Regions from separate parts of the Homo sapiens genome. Here region 1 is linked to region 2. The links come from fine-mapping of genetic effects on gene expression. Tissue or cell type: whole blood. Region 2 holds a variant in brackets; the other region holds the start of a gene. All regions are shown on one strand. Distances are between the middles of the regions.

The links. PIP is the estimated chance that this variant, and not a neighbour inherited with it, causes the effect.
Region 1: it holds the start of ZNF697, and the variant in region 2 is fine-mapped to the expression of ZNF697 in whole blood (TOPMed, PIP 0.99).

The regions. Positions count from the first base shown.
Region 1 is chr1:119,644,440-119,652,545 of GRCh38, forward strand. ZNF697 (zinc finger protein 697) reads right to left here and starts at 3,827. Exons shown (of 3, transcript NM_001080470.2): 1 at 3,252-3,827. It overlaps LOC124904389 (a long non-coding RNA gene), which reads left to right and starts at 3,877. Exons shown (of 2, transcript XR_007066506.1): 1 at 3,877-3,948; 2 at 4,285-4,537. RefSeq lists silencers at 3,244-3,407, 3,705-3,764 and enhancers at 3,823-4,663, 3,835-3,904.
Region 2 is chr1:119,578,655-119,586,760 of GRCh38, forward strand. No RefSeq gene overlaps it. Among named protein-coding and RNA genes, the nearest start is that of LINC00622, 17 kb to the right of the region's middle. The variant TC/T (reference allele first, on the strand shown) is at 3,367.

The DNA.
Region 1 (8,106 bases), 66 kb after region 2:
ATCTGGGAAGTGGAGGACTTCAGGAGAAGAAGGAATAAAGAACTGTCAGTTTTCTCCCATGGAAAGCAAATTCTGAACAGGCTTGACAGTCAGCAGACGTAAATTCCAGTCTACACTCAGTTCAGAATCTGGGACTCCAGGCAAGCTTCTTAGCTTCTCTCCAAGCCCTAGTTTCCTCATTTTTAGAATGGAGATAACAATATGTAAGTCATCAGATTAAATAAGTCATCAGATTAGACATGTAAATCACCTAGTTTAGTAGCTGATATACAGATGTTCAATAAGTGGCGACTATTATTGTAATCACATAAAAAGAAGCATGAAAAATTGCCCAGTTCGAGATAAGTGAGGGACTACTAAATTGTAGTGTCTTTGGGGAAAATTTGAAAGTCTGATTTGTTTTCTATTTCTATATGCTACATTTTAATCCTCATAGATTGCTTGGGCTATAAAAATAAAAATGGCATGGTAAATGTCTGGCTATAGCAGGACAGTCTTCGTAGTGCTGCTTTTCCAATGAGCACTTTGCACCTTCATAATTGAATGGAAACAGTTACCTTCTTCAGTCTAGGACAATGACAAAAATTGTTGATTATTTGCTTGGGATTAATCCACTCCATATTCTGCCTGAGAGTTTAAAATGTAGGCTGGCAAATAACTTATTCAACAAACTTTTTGTGAATGTCCTTGTACTAGACACTGTGATAGGTACTTTTAGGGTCTCTTAACCCAGGAGCAAAAGGAAAAGCCTCAGTCTGACATGTCCTAGGTGCTTTATTTTCACAATTGCAATGAATCATCACAGGTCTATGAGAAAGGCTCCATCCCATTTTCTAAAGAAAAGGCAAGATAATTAAGATTTTTTTTATCCTTTCACTCCTTCTTTGATTTATTCATGTTTTCAAATCAAACATCCTTTGGGCACTTGTTAGATATTAACACCTAAAGCAGGTGTCATTGAAATAATACAAATTACCAAGGGGTAAGATTAATTTTGACTGTAAAGTTTGGGAAGAGTTCTGTAAGGGAGCTAATCAGCTGGGCCAGGATATGTACAAAAATAATTAGGGACAGGTACAGGGATGTCCAGCAAGCATGGGGTTCAACCGGACAGTCACGGAGGTAGAAGAATGTCTGTTGCATCTTCAAGGACTGGGGAGCTATTTGCTCGAAGGATGGGTAGGTAAATTGGGGTGGCACAGGTCCAGTAAAGGAGAGGGGTAGGTAGGCACTGAATTGTGAAGAATTTTAAATCCCAAAGTAAGGAGTTACTTTTGTTGATTATATTAACTCTACATAGTGTGTGGTACTGAGAAACCTGTTAAGGGGCAGGTGAAAGAAAAGAAAAAAGAAGTAGAATCTTAGATACAAAGAAAAGCCCATATGGTACTGACATAGGTTCAAGCTCCAGACCTCTTACTGACACTGTAGCTATTTTTTTCTTTCTACATAAGCAGACAAGCTCCTTCTTGCCTTAGTTTATCATCCTTACAACCAACCTTTACCCTTTCTCCTTCCCTTCACAGGACACTAGTAATTAGGCAAAAAATGTAGATTCTGAGGAAATTCAAAGAGTTTTGGTGGGGGAGGGAGAGGAAATGTGATGCAACTCCATGAGCCTTAGTCATGCTGCTGATGTGAGGTCACTATTTACCACTTCAATCCAGCCGCATCAATCCAGCCGGTTCTTCTGTCTGACTAGCATCCATTTACCCCTCTATCCCAGTAGTTCTGAAAAGCCATCTATGTGTTCCTTTGTGTAATGTAAAGGGCAGCCTGACTTCATATTTATGATCTTGTTCAATAGGATGCCATCTTATTCTCTGTTGGGCATGGCTGAACTTTTGACATCAACTTTCCCTTAACAACAACCCCCACTTCCAACACACACACACACACACACACACACACACACACACACACACGGCCAATATGTTCTAACTAGAAATCATCTAAATTCACAGAGCCTCTTCCCTTCACTTCATTATCCTCATGGCCTCATCCTAAACAACTCGGTTTTTTTTCTCGATTCCATTCTTTATCTCAGTTCAAATGCCTCATCTCTCCCAAAGAAGCTAAGGAAGAAATGTTTTGTTTCACCTCGAAAGCCATTTATATCAGGCTCAGGGCTCTCTCCATGTCCTACAGCATCATTCTTTCGACCATGAGCCTTGCATACTCCTGCCTGGCCATATAAGTGGCATTCTTAAAGGTTCATTTGGTTCCTCAAACGTATTCCACATTAAATAATATCCACATGTTGGCTTGTTGAGAGAAGAAGGTAAACAGTTGGGGGCATCAACAAAAAATCAGGTGAGGGGAGAAAGGAGAGATAGTGAGTGTGGCCCCTTAGGCATGCTGAGTTCAGTTACAACAGTCACACTTGGACTGTATTCAAAGTTGCCCACTCATCCACCACAGCTACTCAAAGACATTTAACTCGCTAGCCATTATCCAACCGCATTTACCAGACGCTCAGTCTTGAGGGAGGAGGGTAACGCAGTAGGGGATGCGGAGTATTGGTGTCATCCTACAGGTTAAGGACAAACATGCCCACTACAAGGACAGGGATACATCACCAACTTCAATTCAGCCCAGGGTTCATGTAGTAAGGGGTGGGTGATTCACTCCTGTGGGGGAGGCAGGGCGGGGGCGGTTGGGGGAGGCGGTTAGGAAAAAGGAAAATCGTGGAAAGTCCCAGAGGAAGTGGTAGTCAGTTCCCGATGCATGGCCATAATGTACATTGGCCATAAGGTACACTCAGCGCCTCTGTGTCGCTGCTCCCCCTCAACCTTTTACTCACCCACTCCTCCCAACACGCGCCTCACCCGTGCCTCCATGCACAATCCTGAGCCTCGGCATCCCCGCGAGGTGCAGGTTCCAGCTTTGCCCACCACCCCACCACCTACCTACATGGACACGTGTGGTTGGAATGCCTCCCGGGGCTAGACGGCCACCCCTCTTGGGCTGCGAGCTGCTGCCCATCTCTCCACCCACCCGTCCTTATTGTGTCATTTGCCCGGTCTGATGGCAGCCCCAAAGCCGCTCATTTGAGTGGGCTAGAATGGAGAAGAGAGGAAAAGGGAGGCACACATTTCATTCACTAGGACCCAAGATGACCTGCCGCCTCTCTCCTGCCCTTCTCGGAGCCCCCCACCCTCCCTTAGCCCCAGTGGGGCTGGAGGCACGAACAGACAAGGCAAGGGGAGCGCAGTCCGTCAAGGTCCACAGCTGCACACAAAGCCCTTCACCTTCTCCTTGCCTTCCAAGCTCCTCCCTGGGCTTGGTTTCTCCGAGGGTCTCTGATGCCCCCTTCGGTGGTCGGCGGGACGGTCCTATTCCCTCTTGCATCGCTGTCTCCTCCCTCAAGTCTCAGCCTCCTCCTCCCCGCCCCTCGCCACATACCCCTGAGGGAGCTCAGTCCTGGCTTTGGGGGCGCGAGAGCACCCCATAAGCCCGGGGCCCTGCGCCCCAGGGGAGCGGACAACGGTCCACTTTACGAGGCACAACTTCGCCCAGCCGTTCCGCCACCGCACTCGAACACACACCCCATCCCCGCAGCGGTCGGGTCTGGTCCCGATCAGCCCCATCCCCGGGAGGCGGTTGAGCCCAGCCACAGCCACGCTCCTACCTGCGAGGCGGCTGGCGCGGCGAGGAGCTAGGGCACCGAGCGCCCCGGCCCGAGCCCCGCACCGCAGCGCGTCTGCCCTTGTGCGGCGGCGGCGGCTGCAGCGGCCGCTGGGTGGCCCGCTGGCTGGCTGGTTGGCTGGCTGGCTGGCTGGCTGGCTGGCTGGCTCGCTGGCTGGCTGCCCGGCTGACTCCTCACTGGGGCTTCCTGTAGGGCTGGACAAAGGACATTTCCTGGGAGGAGCGGGAGAATGTTCCCAGCATGCCTCGATTTGTAGTTCCCGGGGACTTCCTGCCACCGCAGCAGCGGGCGCCCTGGAGGTAGCTCGGGCCAGGCTAGGACTCCGGGACAGGAGGAAAGGCGCTCGCTGCTTCTCTAAGCGCTGTGGGGAAGGGAGCGGCCGGCGGGTCTTGCCCCACGCCCCGCCCCGCGGCGCTCAAGGAGCCCGCTGTCCCGGAGCACGCGAGATCCCAGCGCTGCACTCCGAGCTCGCGGCACCGGTTGCGGGCAGCCGGTGGGACGCTGCCGCTGAGCTGTCCCATGGTTCGGGAGGGCTCTGCGGTGGGAGAGGCCTTTTCTTTAAAAACTGGGAAGTTTGTGGTGGGTTCGCTTTTTAAAAATTAATCTAAAAACACAAAATCTATCTTTTAAAATAGATTTTCTTTTTGTCTTTTACGCCGTTGACATCCTGCTGGGGGCCGATTAAAGAACTTGATTGCTCACCAGGAATTCAGGTTCCTTAAGATCTTGGCGCTTCATCTTTAAAACCATACAGAGCTGATTGTTTCCAGATCCCGACCCGGTGACATTCCTCCCTCATTGTTGACCTTGTCCCAAACATCTTTTCAAGAAAAGCAATTAAATTGAGATTGAAAATAAATTACGTAAATTAAATATTAGACGTGAAAACCTGTGTGCTGCTGAATTAGGAAAGTGCTGGACTTTCTGCGTATCTTTCCTTCATTAACCTTTAGGATTCAGCTTCTTGGTCCCATAAAACAGATGTGCTGGCCACTGTATATTGAGTGTGTGTATTTCGGGAGTGGAAGGGTGAGGAGAAGAGGACATTGGCTACAAGAGAGGAACTCTACTTCCAGCCTAGCAAGAGTCTATGATGCCCTGCACATGTTTTTGTCTATTTCTGGGACCACAGACTCAGGACCCTTAGAAAATCAAGGAAGGACCACATAGAGACTAAATGACTAAAAGCTATATTCTCTCCTGGAGCATGAGCAGAAAGTAATAAACTGAACTAGGAAAGGACAAGTTCTAGGATGCTCTAGAATGTGTTTGAAAAGTAATCAGATAGAAAAGTCTCTGGGAGGCCGGGCGCGGTGGCTCACGCCTGTAATCCCAGCACTTTGGGAGGCCGAGGCGGGCGTACTACGAGGTCAGGAGATGGAGACCATCCTGGCTAATACGGTGAAACCCCGTCTCTACTAAAAAAAAAAACACCAAAAATTAGCCGGGCGTGGTGGCGGGCACCTGTAGTCCCAGCTACTCGGGAGGCTGAGGCAGGAGACTGGAATGAACCTGGGAGGCAGACCTTGCAGTGAGCTGAGATCATGTCAGTGCACTCCAGCCTGGGCAACAAAGTGAGACTCCGTCTCAAAAAAAAAAAAGAAAGAAAGAAAGAAAAGTCTCTGGGCTTGGTGGCTCATGCCTGTAATCACAGCACTTTGGGAGGCCGAAGTGGGAGGGTCACTTGAGCCCAGGAGTTCAAGACCAGCCTGGGCAACACAGTGAGACCCTGTTTCTACGAAAAGTAAAATAAAATAAATAGCGGGTGTGGTGGCGCGTACCTGTAGTCCCAGCTACTCGGTCGTTTAAGTGGAAGGGTCGTTTGAGACTGGGAGTTTGAGGCTGCAGTGAACCGTGATTGCACTCCAGCCTGGGTGACAGATTGAGACTCTGTTTCAAAAAATAAGGTCATAATTACGTGTCACTTCCACTTGTCATTTCACATTTTAAATCCATATGATTAAAACATTTGGGTGAAGGGTTTAGCTTACATTTAAGTAAAGTTTATGCTAGAGTTCTCTTTCTCTAGAGATCCTTAACCTCACGGATAAGATGGCCTGGATTAAAATGTAGAATTGATGAGAAGCATGCAGATAGGACTGTTCACCTCCCAAAAGTTCCTGTTGTATGCCCACCCTAAAGGTCCTGCTGTATGCCCACTCTGTTGACTGTCCACCTAAATTAATTGTGCTGTGATCCTTGCATTTTCTGGACCCTACAAATTACTGCTCCTTCATATTCTCAACCTGGTAACATTCCAGTGAAACTAATCTCCCCATCTCCACCCCAAAGAATTGATTATTGTTTTGCAAATCAAGTAGCCTCTAATAGTGTTCAGTCTGAAAAACATGATATACTTGCTTGTAGCATTTAACATATAACATTGCCCATTGAAACTATTTTTTGCCTTGCTTTTAATACAACACACTCTCCTCCTTCTCCTACACTTCTAACTTGAGCTCAGAATAATTGAACTTTCACTCATTATTTCACGCCATTCCAAACCTGTCCCATCCTTTTGTTTCCAATCTCAGTTATTTTGTTACTTCAACAAAGTTTTGTTTAACATTTATTCATGCTAGTCTCCATGTCTGGAGTAGACATGTAACATTCAACAGTAAGATATTTTACTGAGTAACTACCAGCTATGTCTTACCCCCAAGAAGCCCACACTCCAGTTGAAAAGACAGATGTCACAAAATTACTTCACAGTGTTTAAGGGCTATAATGCTGCCTTATACTGGGGTTCGTGTTCTGTAAAAGTGGGGCTCTTTCCATAAGCCTTCTGTTCCAGTGAGTGGCAGGAGTGGACAGGAGTGGCCAGAGGAAGGCTTGGGAGGGAGGAAATACAGACGGTAAAGAAGACATGTAGTATGTGAAATTTGGTTCTGAACAGGGTGGTAGCTGAGAAGGAAGTCGGATCAAAGGACATTCTTCTGTTTGTAGGGGTTTTATTTGTTCGGTTTTTAAGATGAGAGAGCCTTGAGGATGTTTAAATGCTGATGAGAAAAGTCTTGGAGAGAAACAAAGGGTAACAAAGAGGAACGAAAGAGGATAAGGGATTCTTATTCAACAAATACTTGTTGAATTAACTAATTCCTGCAACTTAGTGTTGAAAATGTTGAGATTGAAATGACCAAACTGCATATTCCCAGCTAAGATACGCAGAGTCTGAGACCAGAAGGAAATGGCATTTCTTTCCTCCTTGTCATATGCTCTCTCCTGCCCTTGAGGCCCTCAGGGGAAGGTGACAGACAAGTGAATGAAAGGAGAGAATGGAGGCTTCCTCCACTGTTGAAGATTAAGTCTTTTCCAAGTTGACAATAGGTTGGAAAGGCACACCACAACTTCAGGAAAGTCCAAACTTTCAAGCCTGTGGATTTTCATTTCATCTTTAAACTAAAAAAAATTTTACCCTTGCCCTTTTCTTTTTCTTCTTCACCACTTTGAGGCAAAGTAAATAATGATTCTCATCCTCATCTTTCAGAGAGTTGAGTCTGGACAGATTTGCTTACATTTTTTTAAGCTTTCAAGTATAAAATGGATGGACCTCTGTTGTTTTTCTTAACCTAGCAAGCATCCCTTTCCCTTTTTTTGGTAACAGCACCTTTGAGAAAAAACCCCATTTCCACCCTTAGGTCTTGTGGTTTAGAGAAGGGCAGAGCCCATCTTCACCTCCACTTCATTGGCAGGTAGTGATCAAGACCCGCCAATTAGCCAATTCAGTGTTGTATGAGGGATAAGCTATTAAAGGAAACAAAGCTGAGAAAAGGGGTGTGGGAAGGGATGTATGCATAAGCAAATTTTTATGACTTGTTTGATCATGCCTGAAGCCAAGGTACCCTTAGACTTTTTAGTTACATGAGCCAAAACATTCCCTTCTGGGCTTAAGCTATTTTGGGTTAAGTTCTATCTCTTGCAGCCAAAAGAGTTCTATATAGCTGGAAGTGGGATGCTGTAGTGCAGATCCTTAAATGTAAAATTGGCTGAGTTGAGAAATGGTGAAAGTAGGAAAGATCCCTCTGTGCCAGGCTAGAGAACTGGAAATTCTTGTGATATGGTAGCCAGGAAACTGAGTGAGAGGTCTCAGACCCCAGCATTTCCAGGGTGGAGTTTGAGAGGTCTTGATTGACAAATGTCAGGGTTTTAGAGAGTTTGGTCTACTTATAGTTTTTATAAATGTTCCAAAGAAAAAGCCATGCTAATGTTGAAACTGGCCTATGTAGTAGCAGAGAGGAAAAAATTACAGTGTGATTAAAAGATTCCCCTTCTACCAGTAGCCAGCAAACCCAAATGGTCTGGAGTCAGATATATTGAGCCATGCCACGTTAGAAAACTAAAATCCTCTGCCTCTTACACAGTGACAGCAAAGGCATAAGTAAAAAACTGATAATAGACTGTCTCCTGAGTCTACATCAAACTCCTCCTGCTGTGCTGTTCCTGCCAGAGGAAGGGAA
Region 2 (8,106 bases):
GGAAAACTACAAACCACTGCTCAACAAAATAAAAGAGGGCACAAACAAATGGAAGAATGTTCCATGCTCATGGATAGGAAAAATCAATATCATGAAAATGGCTATACTGCCCAAGGTAATTTATAGATTCAATACTATCCCCATCAAACTACCACTGACTTTCTTCAAAGAATTGGGAAAAAAATACTTTAAATTTCATATGGAACCAAAAAAGAGCCCACATAGCCAAGACAATCCTAAGCAAAAAGAACAAAGCTGGAGGCATCACGCTATCTGACTTCAAACTATACTATAAGGCTACAGTAACCAAAACAGCATGGTACTTGTACCAAAACAGACATGCAGACCAATGGAACAGAACAGAGACCTCAGAAATAACACCACACATCTACAACCATCTGATCTTTGACAAACCGGACAAAAACAAGCAATGGGGAAAGGATTCCCTATTTAACAAATGGTGCTGGGAAAACTGGCTAGCCATATGTAGAAAGCTGAAACTGGATCCTTTCCTTACACCATGTACGAAAAATAACTGAAGATGGATTAAATACTTAAATGTAAGACCTAACACCATAAAAACCCTAGAAGAAAACCTAGGCAATACCATTCAGGACATAGGCATGGGCAAAGACTTCATGACTAAAACACTAAAAGCAATGCAGCAAAAGCCAAAATTGACAAATGAGATCTAATTAAACTAAAGAGCTTCTGCACAGCAAAAGAAACTATCATCAGAGTGAACAGGCAAACTACAGAATGGGAGAAAATCTTTGCAATCTACCCATCTGACAAAGGACTAATATCCAGAGTCGACAAAGAACTTAAACAAATTTACAAGAAAACAACAAATCACCTCATGTAAAAGTAGACAAAGGATATGAACAGATACATCTCAAAAGAAGACATTTATGCAGCCAACAGACATATGAAAAAATGCTCATCATCACTGGTCATCAGAGAAATGCAAATCCAAACCACAATGAGATACCACTCATGCCAGTTAGAATGGCAATCATTAAAAAGTCAGGAAACAACAGATGCTGGAGAGGATGTGGAGAAATAGGAATGCTTTTACACTGTTGGTGGGAGTGTAAATTAGTTCAACCATTGTGGAAGACAGTGTGGCAACTCCTCAAGGATCTAGAACTAGAAATATCATTTGACCTGGCAATCCCATTACTGGGTATACACCCAAACGATTATAAATCATGCTACTATAAAGACACATGCACATGTATGTTTATTAAGGCACTATTCACAATAGCAAAGACTTGGAACCAACCCAAATGTCCGTCAATGATAGACTGGATTAAGAAAATGTGGCACATATACACCATGGAACACTATGCAGCCATAAAAAAGGATGAGTTCATGTTTTTTTGCAGGGACATGGATGAAGGTGGAAACCAACATTTTAAGCAAACTATCACAAGGACAGAAAACCAAACACTACATGTTCTCACTCATAGGTGGGAATTGAAGAACGAGAACACAGGGACACAGGGCAGGGAATATCACACACCGGGGCCTGTTGGGGGTGAGGGTCTGGGGGACAGATAGCATTAGGAGAAATACCTAATGTAAATGACAAGTTGATGGGTGCAGCAAACCAATGTGGCACATGTATACCTATGTATCAAACCTGCATGTTGTGCACATGTACCCTAGCACTTAAAGTATAATAAAAAATTAACAAATTAAAAAAAAGAAAAAAGAAAAATGCAACACCCCTCCTTCCCCAGCCACTGCACAAAATGCAAGAGCCAGCATCGCTCCAGCTCTTGTAAGGCAAACGCAACATCCATATGTTAATGCCAAATACCATAGGAACCAAAGGAAGGTGGTGGAATCAGAGACAAGACGCCTTCCCCTGGTTTTTCAGCCTGGTGAAACCCTACGCTTACGAAACCACCAGGGCAGTTTTCACAGGCAAAGGAAGGAAGAGGACATATCTCCAACAGGCAGTGAGGGGTGATCAGCGAAAGAGGCGAGGAGGCCTGATCAGTCAGCCATCTCACTAAAGAGGTACAAAGGCCTCAGAGTGTTACGGCCAACAAAATGTGCCATTCCTTCTTACAACTGAGGGTGCCAGGCAGAGCTCCTGCACCAAGCCCTGATGCACCTCACAGGATGCACCATACGGGGGCGGAAAGGCTTGGAGGGAAAAACAAGGAAGCCTAACCTGGAAGGTACTTTTGGGTCCTTTTTCTCCACCTGGGTGGCTCTGCAGGGTACCTGACAAAGGAATGAATGAAAGCAAAGGCAAGTGCTCAGCCACCGGCTTAAGGGCTAGGTATATATGAGTACAGAGAATGAAGCTGAGCTGAAGTCACTGGGAAAAGCCACAGGAGCCAGTGGAGCTTGAATGAGGCCTTGAATTCCTCAGTCCAAGCAATGGGCACAGCCCGAGCAGTGGTGCAGAGGAGGATGGAGGGGCATGAGGAGGACCTCTGCTTTCTGGAAAGCATGTACAGAGCGCAGATGAGAGAGCTCGGGTGCCAGACTAAGCCACAGACTAGATAGGCAGATTCCAAGGGCCAGGGTGGGCCCCAGAGCCTGTGATGGACTGGTGAGAACTGGCAGGAAAGTGACAAGAGGCCAACTCTTATGATGTGAAATCCCATGATTTCCAAATATTAGTGACTAACTCTAAACTTGAAAAAGCAGTGTGAAGATCTGCTCCAGGAGAGGGATGTGTGGGCTAGTGTTCCAACTGTATGTGCAATAATTTATATCTTAAAAAGTGGGTGGTGAGGTGTCAGCAGCAAATCTATTCATTCTTGGCGATAAGTCCCAAATATACATTATTATATCATACTCTCAGCTTTCCTGTATGTTTAACATAGGTTATAATTTTTTAATAAATTAAATTTGGTGGGGAACAAATATGCAAACTAAGAAAACACACTCACAGCCTGGCCCCAGGATTAAGGCCTCTGATTTTCCACTTCTGCTCCCAGTCTAGTGGTCCAGTGCGGGAGATAAAATAGGAGACGTGTTAGGTGCAGTGCACAGTAAATGTGAAGAGTGCCATAAGAAAGGAAAATGCTTCCGGGAGATCCATTCCCATAGGGGATTCATGGGGTCCTTGCATTTGGGCTAAATATCAGAAGATGGGTAGGATTTCAACAGACAGGAATGTGAGGGAAAGTATTCCAGGTGGAGACAATGGAGTCTGCAAAGACCCAAGTGGGAAAGGGGTCACTTTTAGGGAACAATGAGACCAGACCAGAGAGCACCACGCCAGGGAGAAATGGAAGATACACCTGGAAAGACATGATGGGCACACACAGGATCACCCGGGGCCACCCCTGGAGACACCCTGCCTCCTTCCTTCATTGACCTCAGAGTAGGAGTTCTGTG[TC/T]CCCATTAAAGATGACTTGGGCCGGGCACGGTGGCTCACGCCTGTAATCCTAGCAGTTTGCAATGCTGAGGTAGATGGATCACCTGAGGTCAGGAGTTCGAGACCAGCCTGGCCAACATGGCAAAAGCCTGTCTCCACTAAAAATACAAAAAAGTTAGGGGGCATGATGTTGGTGCCTGTAATCCCAGCTACTTGGGAGGCTGAGGCAGAATTGTTTGAACTCAGGAGGCAGAGGTTGCAGTGAGCTGAGATCACACCATTGTACTCCAGCCTGGGAGACAGAGCAGGACTCTGTCTCAAAAAAATAAGATAAATAAGTAAATAAATAAGTAAAACAAAGAAACAAACAAACAAAAACAACAAAAAAACCCGACGACATTCAATTACTTCACACATACTACATGCCTCATGTTCTCTCAAAAATTGGAATCTATGGGAAAAGAATGTCTCCTCCAGCAATGAATATTGATGGTGATGCTAAAAGCTGGGACGTCATTCACTCTGCAATGGGAATTGTTCAGCTGTCCCTGGAAGATTACCTTGGCAGCATGTCGTAGGATGGACTGAAAGAGATGAAGAGGATACTTCAAGATCTAGGTAAGAAATGAAGGCCTGATTTATGTGTTGGTAACAAAATGGAATACAGGGGCAAATGAGGCAGGCCTGAGGCAGAATGGCCACTAGTTTAGACAGGACTGGGTGTGGGCACAGAACTCTCATGCACCCACTTTTTCAAGACAGAAACCTGGACAGCAGCCCCCCACTCTTCCCACCTATCATTTAGTGCTACCAACTTTACCTCCACAACACCTCTTGAATGTGTCCTCTTCCTCCCTGGTAACATCATTCCTACTTGTACCTGCCACAGGCCTCCCTGTCTTGGAGAGTCACTCATGAAACCTATCCTTAGCAGTGTTGCCAGAGTTGTCTCTCCAAACTAGTCTCACCACGTCATGCCCTTCCTTAAAACCAACCACTGGGTGGAGCCCCAGGACTGTCAGGAGGAGCCTGAGAGCCTTAACATAACATAGAGGGCCTCTGAAGCCCTGGGCCCTGCCTAACACCCCAGACTAATTCTCACCAATCCCTGCCCTGTTCCCAGATTCTCCTACTTTGTGCCTCAACAATTTTCAAAAACTCAGGGCTTCCTGCTTGCAGCATGCTTTTACATCTACCTAGGCCAGTGCACGGCATTCCTTCTGCTTAGAGGGTGCCCAGCTCTCCTGCCAGCACATCCTTCCCAGCTCCTTATTCACCATCCAAAGCATCTCTTTTATAGCCTCTGTGCTTTGTGCATATCTAGTTGCACTGCCATTAATTTTTTATTTATATATCCTGTCCCCCACCCCTACACTGCCATGTCCTGAGGACAGTAACTCACCATGTCATCTCTCTGTCCCCAGTGACTGACACAAAATAGACACATGGGCTGATGGAGAGATAGATGGATGCACGGATAGAAAGATGAAACACCAACAAACTCAAATGTTAGGACGGAGAGAGGAGGGGATGGGGAGTCAGGGAGCACAATGCTTTCAATGACAAAGCAAGAGAGAATTCAAAGACAAATTTTCAGGGTGTCAATGAACCTGAAGAAGCTCGATCATCATGATGAGAGCTGGAAAAGAGATAAGCCACATAGTGGGTATGGTGCTGAGAATGAACTCATTTGTGTGATAGAAAGAGAGAGTGGGGTTGTGAGAGGCCCATGAGCAGGGAAAGGGAAAGGCTGTTGAAGGCGAAGCCCAGCTGCCAAGGTTATAAAGGGACTGGGAATTGGATCCAAAACCTGAAATGGTGCAAGGCCCAGAGCATTTTTATACTACAAAAAAAAGGAAAAACTGCTTTTGAAAAATGAATTCAGAAGAGAATCTCCCACTCTTAGTTGACTCAAGTGAGGACCACGCAACCTCTCTGTCTACATGTGCTTCTTAAGACATCAGGGGACTCTGGTGGAAAATTGAGGGGCGTTCTTTTTCTTTATCTTGGCCCAAGATCCCACCCAATGGTAATGAGCAGGGAATGGAGTCGGTGATCTGAGGCATGAAAGAGGTTCATTATGAGGAAGTGGAGAGGGAAGGCTGGATGAAAAGAAAGTGGCTTAGCCACTCTGTCCCCAAAGGCAGGGAGCACTGAGGTCAGTTGCAGACTCCAAAACAGTCAGTAATCTGTTCTGGAAACCTGAAGTTCCTTATTGAAGAGCGCAATCTTTCCTCAAGAAATGGAAGAACCAGCACTGATGCAGTCAGCCCTTCTTCCAAAACAGGTACTGGCGACAGAGAGGTGGGCGTGATATGGGTTCCGGGCCTATTGTCATCTTAGCATGAACGCTGGCCACTAAAGTAGGAATACCCTTCTCATGAGCCTGGCACTAACTCCCTCCTGCACTAGCTGGAGTCTGTCAAATCCCTGGTGTAGCTCTGAGCAGAGCAGCTCTCTGGGCACAAGGCCGGTGAGGTCACCCAGGGCCTGTGCTTGGCTTAAGGGGCTGCCATGGGACCCCACATTTCATTTTGCACTGATCCCTGTAAAATACACAGGCAGTCCTGACTGAGAGAACTTCTTTCAGCAGCAGGCAAAACACCTATTGCTGACCTAGCATGGTTAAATAGAAAAGGCTTCCTGACTCCTACAGGACAGATCAATGTCTTTGTGGAGTTCAGATTTTAGAGCAAAGAAAGTTTCATCAGGCATGGTAGGGCACACCTGTATTCCCAGCTACTGGGAGGCTGAGGGGAAAGATCACTTGAATCCAGGAATTCAACATCAGACAAGACTTCATCTCTAAAATTTTTATTAAATTGAAGTTAAAGAGGGATCTAGAGACCATTACTCCAGCTTTTAACTGTGGGTTCCTTTCCTGCTTTCATTTTACTGATGAGAAAACTGAGGCCTGGGAAGTGAGATGACCTTTCCAACGTTCACTTAGACAACTGTCTGTAATGGTGACCAATGATTTGCTACCTTTGAGGTAAAATATTTATTAAGGGAAAAAAAACTGGGATGAGAGACATTTGGAAACAGGGCAGAGGGTAGGTTTAATGAGAAGTCTGCTGTCTAAACCATCTATCTTGCCTATATAACCCAACCTCTCATCTGAACATCAGCTTGTGGACGTGGATGTTGCATAAATGGAGACAGGCAGGTGCTTCATGGTAAAGAAATGAAAGTAGTTGGGGGTGAGAGGGACTAAGGAAAGGGGTCAAGGAGGGCAAAAAACAAGCGAGTATTCTTTTGTTTTAGAAGAAGAATATTTTTGCAAATAAGAGTGAAGAGTGAAAATCCTGGGTTCTGATTTCAATTTTGTCATCGAAGTTAAGCAAATCTCTTCACCTTCCTGGGTCTGTTTTCTTTCCTACAAAATGAAGGTTATGGCTCATTTCTAAGGTCTTTTGCCAGTGACATTGGGCTGCAAAAGTGTAAGATGATTTGCATCCTCTGGCACCTGCACACTTCTGCCACTAAACTTCGTAATAACATAAGCCTCCTTGTGCTTATTTGTTTGTGTGAAGCCAAAGCTATTTGAGAAAGTGGTTTCCCAGTCATTCGTGGCTCTAGTGGCACATGGCACCTCACTGGAAAAGGGGCGTCATACCTCTCATAGGGTTGTAAAGGATCAAGAAGTGGGCCAAGTAGGAACCGATTCCCTCCTTCCCTGATATCTGATGACCACTGAACTGCAGAACTTAATGCTGACTTAAATACAGCCTTTTGTTTTGGCATTAAGCTATAGATGTTTCCCAAGAAGGTTTTAAAACTCTTAGACAATCACTAGAAATTAAAATGGGCAGGACCAATAGAGTCAGTGCCTACTGAAAAGGAATCAGAAACCCAGAAAAGTCATGCCTTGCTCAAGTCCACTGCCAGTTAATGCCAAAGCTCTGCCCTGCTCACTCCACACACAGCACACCCTCAAAGGAGGAGCAGAACTAGTTCCTTCTTTCTTCCTGTTCTCAGGAAAGGGAGGCCATGCCTTCTCACTTCCTCTTCACCCTGCCCTAGGAGCTGGAAATCCCAGAGGACAGAGTCCATATGCACTGCAACTGCCTCTCTCCTCCTTCTGGGATCCCAGGAGCTATGATACAAGACTTTAGGATGCCCCTCAGCAGCCCCTTCTCTGCAGCACTGAGCACGACCACCTTGTAACCACCTTGCTTCCTAACATTCACACAAGCCCGTGAATCTTACAAGAGCCTTCATGTTTGTCATTTTGTTTGATTTGATTTTCCCACACCTCATACCTGCATCTTTCCACTGCACAGATGAGAGCAAGATCAAGAATACCTATAGGGCTTGGTCTAGGCTGCAGCAGCATTGAACAGTGGCTGTATCAGTCCAGTGAATCTCAGGCTGTGAAGTCATGTCTGTGATTTCTACCTACTCTATTAACTTCAACACAGAAAGCAGTAGAGCTGCTTCAGGTGAAACCTTGAGGTGACCCTCATTTCAGACATTCACTAATGCTACCCCTAACAAGAGAAATGTCTAGCCAGATACTTTTCCAGCCCCTTGACAAAGTGAATTAGCTTTTCCAAGGTCACACACTGTCCCTTCCCTCACCCAACAAAGCCAGGTACAGTCGACATTGCCTGATTTGCAGCAGTGGTGGAAACTCTGACTTATAGTTGCAAAGTCCTTGGCAGAGAATCTGCTTAACTCTGAGCCTTTGTTGAATGTACCGTCTTGCCCTAGCATAACATGTGAAGCCTTGACATGAAGTTCCCCCCTGTCCACCTCCC